2 linked regions of the Homo sapiens genome follow. The protein of the gene in region 1 purifies or fractionates together with the protein of each later gene. This does not show direct contact. Each region holds a gene or a part of one and is shown in the gene's direction. Other genes may lie near its edges. The genes, in order: CDC42BPG and CPNE2.

The links.
Region 2: the proteins of CDC42BPG (region 1) and CPNE2 purify together in Homo sapiens (co-immunoprecipitation; one large-scale study listed by IntAct). This does not show direct contact.

The regions. Positions count from the first base shown.
Region 1 is NC_000011.10:64,834,414-64,838,219, reverse strand, and holds part of CDC42BPG (serine/threonine-protein kinase MRCK gamma), read left to right. Parts: intron 1-57; coding exon 58-137; intron 138-1,200; coding exon 1,201-1,298; intron 1,299-1,400; coding exon 1,401-1,481; intron 1,482-1,689; coding exon 1,690-1,793; intron 1,794-1,923; coding exon 1,924-2,103; intron 2,104-2,368; coding exon 2,369-2,458; intron 2,459-2,598; coding exon 2,599-2,720; intron 2,721-2,800; coding exon 2,801-2,873; intron 2,874-3,066; coding exon 3,067-3,173; intron 3,174-3,256; coding exon 3,257-3,371; intron 3,372-3,642; coding exon 3,643-3,791; intron 3,792-3,806. UniProt on the Homo sapiens protein: May act as a downstream effector of CDC42 in cytoskeletal reorganization. Contributes to the actomyosin contractility required for cell invasion, through the regulation of MYPT1 and thus MLC2 phosphorylation.
Region 2 is NC_000016.10:57,109,535-57,113,340, forward strand, and holds part of CPNE2 (copine-2), read left to right. Parts: intron 1-1,173; 5' UTR 1,174-1,208; coding exon 1,209-1,388; intron 1,389-3,753; coding exon 3,754-3,806.

The DNA.
Region 1 (3,806 bases):
CTTGGGCCTCGGGCCTTGGCCTGTGGACTCTGACTCTCCTTCCCTCTCCCTCTGCAGGGGACCCTGCCACCGCCCTCCCACGGGGCCTTCTCCGGCCATCACCTGCCATTCGTGGGCTTCACCTACACCTCAGGCAGGTGAGGCTAGTCCTCACACACCTGGTGGGAGGCTCGGGGTTGCCTGACCTGGAGGACACTGGGCGCGTAGCCCACTGGGGCCCTGGGAAGGAGGGCAGAAGGGCTCCCCAGTATCTGCATGTGGCAGGTGCTCTAGCCCTCATCCTCGGGGTCCTGGTGAAGCCACACCCAGGTCCTGCTGGGCCACATGCCAGCACATGGCTCTCATGGCGCCTTCCACGAAGGTCGAGGGTGCGCTGCACCTAGAGCCAGAGGTGCAGGGTTCGAAGGCCCCTACTGCTCCCAGGCCTCACTTTGTGGCTCTGTAAAATGGGTGGGATGGACCAGGCGTGGTGGCTTATGGTTGTAATCCCAGCACTTAGGGAGGTCGAGGCGGGTGGATCGCCTGAGGTCAGGAGTTCGAGACCAGCCTGGCCAACATAGTGAAACCCCATCTCTACTAAAAATACAAAAATTAGCCGGGCGTGGTGGCGGGCGCCTGTAATCCCAGCTACTTGGGAGGCTGAGGCAGCGAGAATCGCTTGAACGCGGGAGGCGGAGGTTGCAGTGAGCTGAGATTGCGCCACTGCACTCCAGCCTGGGTGACAGAGCGACTCTGTCTCAAAATGGGTGGGATTATCTCCACCTACTCCCATTCGAGGGGCTGGCCTGAGACCGCAGTGAGGTCCTGGTGCGGTGTGCTCTGAGGTGGAAGGAAATGGGTCAGATCCCCACTCCTCTAGACCAGCCGGGCCACTGTCACCACATCCTGTCCTCGACAGCCCTGGGGAGAGGCCTTGTCACCACCATCTTCCCCTGGGGAAACTGAGGGTAAAATACATTGGGTTCGAGGTGATACAGCTTGTAAGGGCCAGGATGAGGGTTTAAACCTGGGCCTGGACCCGGAGCCTGTGCCCTGCAGCTGCTACCCCGGGCTGCCACCCGTGGCACCAGTCTGGGGTCTCCCGAGGGCAGGGTCTGTTTTGGCTGTTTCACAATTAATGAGTGATTCGGTCCAGGAGGATGGAGGAGACTCTGTGGGGTGAGGTTTCTACCAACAAACATGGCCCCTGTCCCCCTACAGTCACAGTCCTGAGAGCAGCTCTGAGGCTTGGGCTGCCCTGGAGCGGAAGCTCCAGTGTCTGGAGCAGGAGAAGGTGGAGCTGAGCAGGAAGCACCAAGGTACTGGGAGCGGCTGGGCCGGGCCTGGGTGTGCTGGCCCTAGGGGCTGCTGCTGCGGGAATGGAGGAGTGGACTCACCTGTGGGTACCACCTCCCCTCCAGAGGCCCTGCACGCCCCCACAGACCATCGGGAGCTGGAGCAGCTACGGAAGGAAGTGCAGACTCTGCGGGACAGGCTGCCAGGTATCCCTTCCGCCCACCCCCCCCCCCCCCCCAGGGCTGAGTCCCACCTGGGCTCGGGTCCTGCCCTGCCCTGGACAAGCTGTATGATCCTGGGAGAGCATTTTATACTCTCTGAGCCCGCGTGTGGGAAACAGGCCAAGGAGACTTGCTCCTGGGCTGAGAGGCTGGGGCCGCCAGCACTCGAGGTCTCAGTGACTCTTCCTGGCAGAGATGCTGAGGGACAAGGCCTCATTGTCCCAGACGGATGGGCCCCCAGCTGGTAGCCCAGGTCAGGACAGTGACCTACGGCAGGAGCTTGACCGACTTCACCGGGTGAGGGCTGGGTGAGGTGGGTGAGGGCTGGGTGAGGTGGGTGAGGTGGGTGAGTGGCCCTGGGCTCCATGGACGGTTCGTGCCTGACTCTGGGCCTTGTCCTTCCCCGCTCCCTCCCCTGCCTCCTCAGGAGCTGGCCGAGGGTCGGGCAGGGCTGCAGGCTCAGGAGCAGGAGCTCTGCAGGGCCCAGGGGCAGCAGGAGGAGCTGCTTCAGAGGCTACAGGAGGCCCAGGAGAGAGAGGCGGCCACAGCTAGCCAGACCCGGGCCCTGAGCTCCCAGCTGGAGGAAGCCCGGGCTGCCCAGAGGGAGGTGAGTGACCAGGGTGGGTAGGGACAGCACCTGGGCCCTGCCCCCAGTGTGCCTGGAGGGAGCATGGGGAGCTTGGTGGGAGATGCTGCCTCCCGGTTGTAGCTGGCAGAGGCTAGGCCAGGGGATGGTGGCTGGGACGGGGCAGTCTGGGAGTCCATGCCTCCTCATGTCCACTGTGGCTGGCAGGTCTGGAGTCCATGGTAAGGTGGGCAGAGGGGCTGCCGAGGGCAGAGTTGGCAGTGGCCTGCCTCTGCACCCCTCACAGCTGGAGGCCCAGGTGTCCTCCCTGAGCCGGCAGGTGACGCAGCTGCAGGGACAGTGGGAGCAACGCCTTGAGGAGTCGTCCCAGGCCAAGGTAGTCAAGTCCTCCCCCTTGGCAAGAGGTGCTTCCCCACCAGCCTGACCCCACTCAGAGCCTCAGGGCCAGGCCTGTGTCCCAGGTGGGTGGGCCATGGCATCTTGGGTCTCTGCCCTGACCCCCTCCATGTCCCCAAGACCATCCACACAGCCTCTGAGACCAACGGGATGGGACCCCCTGAGGGTGGGCCTCAGGAGGCCCAACTGAGGAAGGAGGTGGCCGCCCTGCGAGAGCAGCTGGAGCAGGCCCACAGCCACAGGTGAGCCAGGCAGCTGGTGGCAGGGAGGGGCCGGGCCTGGCCTGGGCGGTGAGTCACGGCCTTGGCCTTCTCCTCCCCAGGCCGAGTGGTAAGGAGGAGGCTCTGTGCCAGCTGCAGGAGGAAAACCGGAGGCTGAGCCGGGAGCAGGAGCGGGTGAGCAGGGTACAACAGACGGAGGGTACAACAGACGGACAAGGCAATGGGGAGCCAGTTGAGGGGTGGGCAAGCTGCAGCCAGTGAGCAGGGTGGACATGGACGGGGCTCGGGGTGCTGGGGTACCTACAGGGAGACGGCAGTCCCAGGACTGCTGGGGCCTGGGGCTGACCTTTCCTCTGGCCGGCCCCAGCTAGAAGCAGAGCTGGCCCAGGAGCAGGAGAGCAAGCAGCGGCTGGAGGGTGAGCGGCGGGAGACGGAGAGCAACTGGGAGGCCCAGCTCGCCGACATCCTCAGCTGGTGGGTGCCAGGGGTGGGTCGGGGTGGGGAACGCAGGCGAGACTGAGGGCCCAGCCCATGACCCTGAGCCCCTTCCCATTCAGGGTGAATGATGAGAAGGTCTCAAGAGGCTACCTGCAGGCCCTGGCCACCAAGATGGCAGAGGAGCTGGAGTCCTTGAGGAACGTAGGCACCCAGACGCTCCCTGCCCGGCCACTGGTGAGCCCCAGAGATGCCCCTGGGGGCTGGCTTGGGCAAGTCACTGACCTTCCGTGAGCTCAGCATCCCTGCTACTGAAGGTCACTACTGGAGGTGGGGACACCAAGCTCATGAGAGATAGTGATTTCCCTGAGCTCACAGTGGGTCATTGGCTGAGCTGGAGCTTTGAGCCTGGCTGGGTGGCATGGGTAGCAGGATGCTCTGGTAGCAGGGGGTCCCTGAGGCAGCCAGGCCTAGAAAGCATCTTATACGGGTGCTCCGTGGCCACCAGGACCACCAGTGGAAGGCGCGGCGACTGCAGAAGATGGAGGCCTCGGCCAGGCTGGAGCTGCAGTCAGCGCTGGAGGCCGAGATCCGCGCCAAGCAGGGCCTGCAGGAGCGGCTGACACAGGTGCAGGAGGCCCAGCTGCAGGCTGAGCGGTGAGGCTAGGGGCA
Region 2 (3,806 bases), on another chromosome or scaffold:
GCCCCAAGGGCTGCTGGTTGCCCATGTTTATGGTTATTTCTTGATGATATACTAAACAAGTGGCAGATTATTCATGCCTCCCCTTTTTAGACCATATAGGGTCACTTCCTGATGTTGCCATGGCATTTGTAAACTGTCATGGCCCTGGTGGAAGTGTAGCAGTGAGGACGACCAGAGGTCACTCTCATGGCCGTCTTGGTTTTGGTGCTGGCTTCTTTACTGCAGCCTGTTTTATCAGCAAGGTCTTTATGCCCTGTATCTTGTGCTGACCTCCTATCTCATCCTGTGACCCAGAATGCCTAACCATCTAGGAATGCAGCCCAGTAGGTTTCAGCCTTATTTTACCCAGTTCCTATTCAAGATGGAGTTGCTCTGGTTTAAACGCCTCTGACGTTACCAGAAGTGAGCTTCCTAGTGGCCAAAGTAGGAAGGAGAGAAGCCTGAGCAGTTGTCAGCTCCACTGTGGCCACAAGATGCCAACATGCTAGTTGCTCAGGAGAAGCCCAGGTTTTCCTGGCACAATTAGTATCTGAGACACCCATGTCCACTGTGATTTGTTGCTCATGTGACGGAGCAACACACAAGGAGCTGTGCATCCTTACAGGTGAAGACTGACCACAGCAGAGAAAAACTTCAAAGACAAATTTAACACAGCTACCAGAGACAGAGACTCTTTTTTCTTTTCTTTTCTTTTTTTTTTTTTTTTTTGAGATGGTATCATTCTGTCGCCTAGGCTGGAGTGCAGAGACGTGCAATCACGGCTCACTGCAACCTTGAACTACTGGCCTCAAGCAATCCTCCTGCCTCAGCCTCCCAAGTAGCTGGGACCACAGGCACGCACCACCATGTCTAGCTGATTTTTAAATATTTTTTGCAGAGACAGGATCCTCCTTGTTGCCAGGCTGGTCTTGAACTCCGGGCTTCCAGGCACTTGACCTCCCCAAGTGCTGAGATTATAGGCGTGAGCCACTGCGCTCAGCTGAGACTCCCTTTTCATGCATTTCCTTGCATTCTTCTTTCTTCAAACCTTTGCCTATGTTATTTGACAACCCGCCTCAATTTGCCTTCCATCTCTCCACTCACCTCTTAAAGGCCAGGTGGTAATGCCTCCCTATGGTGGGGCAGCATAGCAGGTGTCTGTCCACTCTCTGACCCTCACTTCTGTTCCCCTAGACTGCCAGGAACTCCTGCCACCGCCACCGGCTCCCATGGCCCACATACCCAGTGGGGGTGCCCCAGCAGCGGGGGCAGCCCCCATGGGCCCCCAGTATTGCGTGTGCAAGGTGGAGCTGTCAGTGAGTGGCCAGAACCTACTGGACCGGGATGTTACCTCCAAGTCCGACCCCTTCTGTGTCCTCTTTACAGAGAACAATGGCAGATGGATCGAGGTGAGGCTCTTCCGTGTGTCTGCGGTGGGTAAGGGGGTGGCTAGGCTGCTGGGGAGGGGGAGTCTCCCAGGACTGGGATCCAGGATGTCTGATGGAAGTAGTTGGAGTGTGGGCTGGTGGCAGGGGATTACTTGGTAAATTGTTACTCTTAAAATGAAATTTTATTTTAAATATATTTAAAATATTACTTTGTGTTTAAATTATTACAATTAAAATCTATAGATTTATATTTATATGATTTATAGTGATTATTTGATATCTTTTTTTTTTTTTTGAGACGGAATCTCTCTGTCCCCCAGGCTGGAGTGCAGTGGTGAGATCTCAGCTCACTGCAACCTCTGCCTCCCAGGCTCAAGCAATTCTCCTGCCTCAGCCTCCCGATTAGCTGGGGCTACAGGTGTGCACCCCACGCCCAGCTAATTTTTGTATTTTTAGTAGAGACATGGGTTTTCGCCATGTTGGCGAGGCTGGTCCTGAACTCCTGACCTCAAGCAATCCACCTGCCTCCACTTCCCAAAGTGCTGGGATTACAGGCATGAACCACCACGCCCCATCTTGTTATAAATTGTTATATATAGTTAACATTTTATAGTTTTATGAAATGTTTGCTTCCGCTTTTAAATAACCTTTCTAAATGAACACATGGTCAGTAAGAAACAGAGAAACAGTGAGCTCAGGCTTTGGGAGCTGGTCCAAGGCCCAGTGATGCTACTCCCTGCTGTGTGGCCTTAAGCAAGTAGCTGTCCCTTTCTGAACCTGTCTCCTCATCTGTGAAATTATTATATATTTTTTTTCTGCTGACTCCCTTGGAAGGCCCCAGATCTGGGGATATTAATGGTGCCCCAGGCAAGGACTTCTGAGCTGGAAGACTTTGGCTTGAAGGTTGGAAAGAGTTGCAGCTTGAGGAAGGATGTTGAGAAACCTAAGCTGTTCAGACCTTCAGGTTTTAAAACTTGCTTTGCTTTTGCAAAAGGAAACTATTGGAGTAAATGTAGAGAATCCAGATAAACCTAAAGGAGAAAATCAAAATTGTTAGGAACCCACCTGTCATAGAGAACCACTGTTAACCGTTTGGTATCCAGCCTTCCAGATGGCTTTATATGCATGTATATTTCCCAAAATATGTGTGTATTTTTTAATGGATATTTAACTAGGCCACGGTGGGAGTTCACCTGAACATACTGTGGTTTACAAAGAGTTCCCATGGATGTTGGCTCCTTCTTGTGATGCCAAGAAAACGGTGTGGGATTGTTGACCCACTTTACAGAGGGGGAAACAGGGGCCCCAGAGTGGGTAGGGACTTTTTTGTGTCACCCAGCTTGTTGATGGTACAACTGTAAGTGGGAGGTGGGACATGGGGCCAGCTGAGGACTCCTGGGGGAGCCACAAGCCTGTGAGAGGCATGTCTGGGGGCACAGTTCCCTTCCACCAGGTCTCTAGAACCCTTGAGTGCCCCGAGGGAGTGGTATCCCCCTGACTCATAGCACAATCCCCCACCCTCCCTGACAACCTCTGCCCCCACCCAGGCCAGCCACCCTGGCTAAAAATAGCCCAGGGCCAAGACCTCCTCCGTCCCTGCTGCTCCAGCCCTTGGAAATGGACTGGGTGGGAGGAAAAGTCAACACAGCCTGGGCCCCAAAATAGACTGTCACCCAGACTCCGCGGTTTGGGGCCTCAGCATCCAGAGGCCAGGAGGCGGGTTTCCTGTCCCAGTGCCACCACTGACCCACAGTACCAGGCCCTGTCCTCAGCCAGGCTTTGGTATCCACAGTAGGTGGGGTGTTGGGCTGCACAGTGTCAGGATTCTATACAAGATACAAATATCTCCCCGCGCTCCCGTGGGGAGTCCCTGACCCCACCTCCCCCGAAGAATCCTCCCTGCTTTCTGTTTCCTCTCTCAGTTTCCATGTAAAACATGGTTTGAAAAAGGGTTTTCCCAAAATAAAAAGTGAAAACCGCAAGTAGTCAAATCCTTTCCCTTTACAGAGGTGGAAACGGAGGCCCAGATGGGGAAAGGGCCTTGTCCTCCATCTCTTACCCAGGCAGGGGCAGGGCCTGAGCTCTTACCCTGGCACCTGGGTAGGGAGCCAGGGCCAAAGAATTAAGAGTGTGGGTAGCAGAGTCAGACCTCGGTTTCAAATCTCGGCCCTGCTCCACAAGCTGTCCAGCCCTGGGGAAGTCACTTAACCTCTCTGTGCTTCAGTGTCCTTGTCTGTGAGCTGGGGATAGTGAGTCACTGACGATGACCACAAGAGCCTGGCACAGAGTAGGCATTGTACAAGTTAGCAGAATGATTTCCAGCAGCCTGCGAGGTCTTGGACCAGCTGCCTTGACTCTGACTTCCATTTTCCTGCCCCTCTGCTAGTACGACAGGACAGAAACCGCGATCAACAACCTCAACCCCGCCTTCTCCAAGAA